2 linked regions of the Homo sapiens genome follow. The protein of the gene in region 1 interacts with the protein of each later gene in a biochemical or structural test. Each region holds a gene or a part of one and is shown in the gene's direction. Other genes may lie near its edges. The genes, in order: PLIN2 and UBR1.

What was found.
Region 2: the proteins of PLIN2 (region 1) and UBR1 form a complex in vitro, tested with the Homo sapiens proteins (one study listed by BioGRID).

Annotation. Positions count from the first base shown.
Region 1 is NC_000009.12:19,120,694-19,124,513, reverse strand, and holds part of PLIN2 (perilipin-2), read left to right. Parts: intron 1-866; coding exon 867-949; intron 950-3,348; coding exon 3,349-3,634; intron 3,635-3,820. UniProt on the Homo sapiens protein: Structural component of lipid droplets, which is required for the formation and maintenance of lipid storage droplets.
Region 2 is NC_000015.10:43,099,425-43,103,244, reverse strand, and holds part of UBR1 (E3 ubiquitin-protein ligase UBR1), read left to right. Parts: intron 1-3,820. UniProt on the Homo sapiens protein: E3 ubiquitin-protein ligase which is a component of the N-end rule pathway. Recognizes and binds proteins bearing specific N-terminal residues that are destabilizing according to the N-end rule, leading to their ubiquitination and subsequent degradation.

The DNA of each region.
Region 1 (3,820 bases):
GACCAGCCATTCCAACTCTGCTACTTCCTAAATGAATTTGGTACTAGTACTTGGTTTGGTATTCTTAGTGGGAAGCTCACACTAAAATCTCCCTTGTTAGGGAGATCCAGGGTGGTCTTGGCATACTCTTTCCTCCTGAGGACCCCAAATACACTGACCTGTGCTGAAGTAAGCGTAGGTAGGGATTAAACTAGCATGGGAATGCCGATTTTGAGAGAGTTTCCAGATACCTTATTCTCTGAATGACAGTTCAGGGAAAGCCCGGCTACTCTTGGCATTAACATTAGGGGCCAGTTGATAAGGAAGAAGCTTCAGAGCCAGCTTCCTGTTTGGCCTGTCACTGCCTCTGCCTGCTCCTCCCTCACACCCCCATATTTCCTTACCTTTAGAAGAGAGTTGCCAGCAACTTGCCAGGCCTCTTCCTGTCAGAACTAGATAAACCAGGCAATGCCTTCTGTTGTATAAGATCAACATTCTTGCCTTTTTTTTTTTTTTTGAGATGGAGTCTTGCTCTGTCACCCAGGCTGGAGTGCAATGATGCATCTTGGCTCACTGGAACCCCTGCTTCCTGAGTTCAAGCGATTCTCCTGCCTCAGCCTCCTGAGTAGCTGGGACTACAGGCGCACACCATCACGCCCAGCTAATTTTTGTATTTTTAGTAGAGACGGGGTTTCACCATGTTGGCCAGGATGGTCTCGATCTCTTGACCTCGTGATCCGCCTGCCTCAGCCTCCCAAAGTGCTGGGATTACAGGCGTGAGCCACCGTGCCCAGCCCATTATTGCCATTTTTTATAAGGCCTATGGTAATGTGTGTTCATTCTATACCTATAGTACTACATTAACATTTTCCCATTTGTGATTCTAGTTGCAGTTGCCAATACCTATGCCTGTAAGGGGCTAGACAGGATTGAGGAGAGACTGCCTATTCTGAATCAGCCATCAACTCAGGTGAGCTTGGGACAAAAGTGCTGAGACTTGACACTTCACATGTTTTCATCTTCTATCTGTTAAAACAAGCTGTACATATCACAAACAGGCAAATACTTGTTTTCCCAACCTGGATCTGGATGTATGTTTGAAAAATAATGGCCACTTCCTTACTTCCTGAACTGTTGTCAAGTTGTATCTACGAAGCAGAGAAGAACTAGCCTCCTTTGGATTAGAAAACTTTTAGTGTGTTGTCTATCAGTTTGTGTCTTTGCTCCTATAAATGAAATTGCTGTCTCAAGTAACTGATTGTCTTGTGGTATTAAATAAATGCAGACGTGATATATATAACCTTTTCTCACCTGGCTTGTACAATGCTGCCAGGAACTACCATCCATATGGGATAGCTAGCCAGTGTTGACAAAAATGATAGGCTTGTCTGTCCTGGTGATCCTTTGGTTCAGATAATGTCCTAAAATTTTGTTTCAAATTAAGAATACAGAATGGCACAAAAGGATACCAGTTAGGGAAAAATATAGCTCTGTGTCTTTTCATAATCTAAATACAGTCATCTGTCACTTAGTGATGGGAATATATTTTGAGAAATGCACATTAGGTGATTTTGCCATTGTGTGAACATCACAGAGTATACTCACACCAACCTAGATGGTAGAGCCCAGTGGTCCCCAAGCTTTATGGCACCAGGAACTGGTTCCATGGAAGACAGTTTTTCCATGGACCAGCAGGGGGTGGGTGGTGTTTTTGGGATGATTCAAGTGCACTATATTTATCATTAGATTCTCATAAGGAGCATGCACGTGCACAGTTCACAAGAGGGTTAGGGTTAGGTCTCCTATGAGAATCTAATGCCGCCTCTGACTGGTAATGGACTGGTAATGGACTGGTAATGGTCCATGGCCCGGGGGTTAGGGACTTGTGGTGTAGCCTGCTATATACCTAGGCTATATGGTGTATAGCCTGCTATATACCTAGGCTATATGGTGTATAGCCTGCTATATACCTAGGCTATATGGTGTATAGCCTGCTATATACCTAGGCTATATGGTGTATAGCCTGCTATATACCTAGGCTATATGGTATATAGCCTGTTGCTTGCTTCTAGGCTACAAACCTGCACAGCATGACTACACTGACTACTGTAACACAATGATAAGTATTCGTGTATCTAAACTAGAAAAGGTACAGTGAAAAAAAAAAGTATACCTGTTATAGGGCAGTTCATTATAATCTTATGGGACTATCATTGAATAGTGGTCCATCGCTGACCAAAATATTATGTGGTACACAACTATAGGTAGGTTTAGTGTATAGCCTTTAGAATGCTTGTGCAAATCTTTTAAATTTTTCACTTACATTGCTTGAGACTGTGCTAATGGTGAGAGTTATTTTCCATTTCGGATATTTTCTTTAAATGTTGGTAACTTGTGTTCTTTTTTTTTTTTTTTTTTTTTTTTTTGAGACAGAGTCTTGCTCTGTCACCCAGGCTGGAGTGCAGTGGCACAATCTCGGCTCACTGCTGTCTCTTCCTCCTGGGTTCAAGCAATTGTCCTGCTTCAGCCTCCCCAGTAGCTGGGTTCACAGGCACGCCCCGCCACACCCAGCTAATTTTTTTTGTCATTGTTTGTTTGTTTTTGAGACAGAGTTTTGCTCTTGTTGCCCAGGCTGTAGTGTAATGGTGCAATTTTGGCTCACTGCAACCTCCACCTCTGGGGTTCAAGTGATTCTTCTGCCTCAGTCTCCCAAGTAGCTGGGGTTACAGGCATGTGCCACCACGCCCAACTAATTTTTTGTATTTAGTAGAGACGGGGTTTCACCATGTTGGTGAGGCTGGTCTCGAACTCCTAACCTCAGGTGATCCAACCAACTCAGCTTTGCAAAGTGCTGGCATTACAGGCATGAGCCACCATGCCCTGCCATGTATAATAACTGCATACTAATAACACCCCGAGGGCCAGGTATAGTTTGATCTTCAGTTTCCTCTCTGGATTTGTGTGACTTTGGAATAAGCTATATAACTTACCTTCTTTTCTTTTCTTTTTTTTTCTTTTCTCTTCTCTTTTTTTTTTTTTTTTTTTGAGACAGGGTCTTGCTCTGTCACCCAGGCTGAGTGCAGTGGCACAATCACAGCTCACTGCAGCCTTGGCAAACAGACAAATTTCATATCTGTTTACTTCATTTGCTCCTCCTGCAATTCCCAAGGATTGGCAGGTAGGGCAGATATACTTGATAGGGAAATTCAGGCTCATCAACTCTTAGTGACTTGCCCAAGACCTAAAGCTAGAGTGAGAGGACTAGATTCCTTCTTTAACTCTTCAGCTGTGCTGCCTTAGTTAAGACCTTAGGTATGTCCTTGTGCTCATTTTTCTCACCAGCCAGGGGATCTGCTTTTCTACTTACAGATTGTTGCCAATGCCAAAGGCGCTGTGACTGGGGCAAAAGATGCTGTGACGACTACTGTGACTGGGGCCAAGGATTCTGTGGCCAGCACGATCACAGGGGTGATGGACAAGACCAAAGGGGCAGTGACTGGCAGTGTGGAGAAGACCAAGTCTGTGGTCAGTGGCAGCATTAACACAGTCTTGGGGAGTCGGATGATGCAGCTCGTGAGCAGTGGCGTAGAAAATGCACTCACCAAATCAGAGCTGTTGGTAGAACAGTACCTCCCTCTCACTGAGGAAGAACTAGGTAACTGGAATTTTATCTTGAAATACTGTTTTATATTAAATCTTTCTTAAACAGCTTCATTGACATATACTCTCATCTTGAGTCTAAATTTACACAGTTGTGCAAGCATCACTGCAATCCAGTTTCAGAACACTTCTGCTACCCCAAAAGATCCTCATGCCTGTTTGCAGTCAGTCCTTTTTAATT
Region 2 (3,820 bases), on another chromosome or scaffold:
ATAGGCATGTGCCACCATGCCGAGTTAATTTTTTGCATATTTTGTAGAGACAGGGTTTAATTTAATTTAATTTATTTAAGACAGAGTCCTACTCCATCACCCAGGCTGTGGTATAGTGGTGCCATCTTGGCTCACTATAACTTCCACCTCCCAGGTTCAAGCAATTCTTGTGCCTCAGCCTCCCAAGTAGCTGGAATTACAGGTGTGTTCCACCACACCTGGCTGATTTTTGTATTTTTAGTAGAGACAGGGTTTTGCCATATGGCCAGGCTGGTCTCGAACTCCTGACCTCAAGTGATCCATCTGCCTTGGCCTCCCAAAGTGGTGGGATTACAGGCGTGAGCCACTACGCCCAGCCCGGATAAGATCTTTGAGGAGGAAAATGTGTGCATATATATACACACACACAGAGGAAAAGAGAGTGAGACAGAGATGATGAGAAAGAGAGAACAGGAATGATTGAAACGGGTGGAAAATGGAAGAATGAGGTAAGAACGTGGAAACAATAGGCAAGCACGTAGGAGGTGAGAGTAGTGTGATGGCATGGGGTATTATTTTGAGAGGGTGGTTTATTGGGTCCATGATAATGAGGACTGAGAAAAATTGGGAATCAAGAGACTTGTGAGGTAGTCTGCCAGAACTTCTGCCTTCTGTCTTCCTCGACTAGATTTTCTTCCTTAAGTCAATTTCAGAAGATACCTCTTGGCATGATACTCAGCTCTTTTCTATTGCCTGTTTATAACCTCTACCTAGGGGATTTCATCTAGTTCTGTGACTTTAAATACCATTTGTATGTATTCAGTTCCCAAATTTATATCTCTGTGTCATCTCACTTCTGAACTCCAGAATCATAAATCCAACTGCCTACTTGACATCTTCACTTGGATGTCTGGTGTTTCAAACAGTGGGAGCAATTAAGAAGTTGCTGCTGTAACCCAAGCCATAGTTGATGGTAGCTTGCACTGGAAAGGTTATCCTTGGAGATAGAGTGAAGAGGATGAATGTGAGAAAGATTTTAGAAGGATGGAAGAAGCAAAAAGACTTGCTGATAGATTAGGCATGAGGCAAAAGGTAAGGAATAGATGATATCTGCATCCTCAGTTTTTGGTTTAAGCATTCATGGCAGCGGTTGTGTTGTTTCCAGCGGTATGATCTCGGCTCATTGCAACCTCTTTGTCCCAAGTTCAAGTGATTCTCTTGCCTCAGCCTCCCGAGTAGCTGGAATTACAGGCATGCACCACCATGCCTGGCTTTTTTTTTTTTTTTTTTTTTTTTTGTGAGCCAAGGTCTCTCTCTGTCGCCAAGGCTGGAGTGCGTGGCGAGATCTCGGCTCACTGAAACCTCTACCTCCCGGGTTCAAGCGATTCTCCTGCCTCAACCTTCCAAGTAGCTGGGATTACAGGTGCCTGCCACCACGCCTGGTTAATTTTTGTATTTTTAGTAAAGAGAGGGGTTTCACCATGTTGGCCAGGTTGGTCTTGAACTCCTGACCTCAGGCAAGCCGCCCACCTCAGCCTCCCAAATTGCTGGGATTATAGGCATGAGCCACCGTGCCCAGCCAGTTTTTTTGTATTTTTAGTAGAGGTGGGGTTTCACCATATTGGCCAGCCTGGTCTCGAACTCCCGACCTCAAGTGATCCACCCACCTCGGCCTCCCCAGTTGCTGGGATTACAGATGTGAGCCATCGCACCTGGCCTTGGTTGTGTCATATATTGAGAGGAAAGACAAGATTTTAGGAGAGGAAAGGAGAAAGGCAGATCAAGAGTTTTGTTGTCCCTGTCTCAGTAGACAGCACCTCCATCATAGCTCTTGAAGACAAATAATTCTGTCTCCACCCATGTAGTCCAAGTCACTCTCTGTTGTCTTGGCTACTGCAGTGACTTCCTAACTGGTCTGTTTGCTTCCACTGTTGCCCTCTTCCTGTCCATTCTGCACAGAACAACCAGAGTAATCTTTTAAAGATTAAATGAGATCATGTCAGTCTCCTACCTAAATCCTCAGTGGCTTTCTCTTATACTTATAAACTCATTACAAGCCTTCAAGACTTTGCCTGGTCCAGCCCCTGCATCTCCACCTCATTTCCTGTTACATTCTCCTCACTCATCCTGGCCTGTTAGTACAAGCCCAAGCTGTATTTTGCTTTAGGGTCTGTGCTGTTGCTTGCTGTTTGCTTTTCCTAGAGTGTTCTTCCTCTGCTTTTTCTTAATACACACTCTGTCTAAAAGATGGGTTCCTCTTATTCTCTGTCAAAGCAACCTGTTTATTTCTCCCATTTCAATTATTACAATCTGTAATTACTGTATTGTCTTTATTTACTTAGCAAAATGTCTGTTTCTTCCTCCAGAGGGAGAGGTAAGTTCCATGAAGGGAAGGATCATGTGTGACTTGTTCATTGATGCATCTTTTTTTTTGAGACGGAGTCTCGCTCTGTCGCCAGGCTGGAGTGCGTGGTGCGATCTCGGCTCACTGCAACCTCCGCCTCCCGGATTCAAGCGATTCTCCTGCCTCAGCCTCCTGAGTAGCTGGGACTACAGGGGCATGCCACCATGCCCAGCTAATTTTTGTGTTTTTAGTAGAGACGGGGTTTCACCATGTTGGCCAGGATGGTCTCGATCTCTTGACCTCATGATCCATCTGCCTCAGCCTCCCAAACTGCTGGGATTACAGGTATGAGCCACCATGCCTGGCCACATTGATGTATCTTGGTATGTGATTGATACAGAAGACACTTAAATATTTTTAAATGAATGAATAACTGAGGATCAACATTAATGATTTATTGTAGTAAGATTAGTAGTGATTGGTGGATGGAGGTTGTAGATAGAAAAAAGGGAATGAGCCGGCATGTTAGGGTAGTGGCTAACCTTCGAGTCCAGGCTGAACAGGGAGGTAATAAAAGCCAAAACAGGAAATCTGGAGGGAATTGGTGGGATTGAGGTGTTAAAGGGCATGAGGTTGACATAAGTGGGAGGACTGAACTTTGTGGTCAGAAAGGGGCATTTTAGAATTTGAGTACATGGGGGCACATCAAGTTTTTGTGATGGTAGAGCCAGGTTAAAGGCACCTCTTGGCCTGGTGCAGTGGCTCATGCCTGTAATCCCAGCACTTTGGGAGGCCGAGGTGGGTTTATTATGAGGTCAGGAGATCGAGACCGTCCTGGCTAACATGGTGAAACCCCTTCTCAACTAAAAATACAAAAAATTAGCCGGGCATGATGGCGGGCGCCTGTAGTCCCAGCTACTCAGGAGGCTGAGGCAGGAGAATGGCGTGAACCTGGGAGGCGGAGCTTGCAGTGAGCTGAGATCACACCACTGCACTCCAGTCTGGGCGACAGAGTGAGACTCCGTCTAAAAAAAAAAAAAAGAGGCACCTCTTGTGTGTTCCTATAGCACCCTTTCTATACTCCTGTTTTATGGTTTTATGTAGCGTGTCTCAGACTGTACTCTACGTTACCTGTTTACTATGTGTCTTTCCTTCTAGACAGTGAAGTTCTTGAAGGCCTGAACTGTTGCTTGTTCACAGCTGTATCTAGTTTCTAGCACATTGCTTCAAAGTTTTTATTGAATGTATGAATGAATGAATGAATGAGAAGACACTGAGGTAGAGAGGAAGTGGGGGTAATAGAAGCTGAGAATGTTAAGAGATATTAACATTATTGAGATATAATTTACATACAATAAAATGTACCCATTTAAGGCGTTTCTTGGATAAATTTTAACAAATGTATATACTTGTGTGACTACCACCAAATCAGGTTATAGAATATTTCTGTTATTTCCCAAAGTTGTCTCCTGCTGAAATGGGAGGATTTTTTAAAAG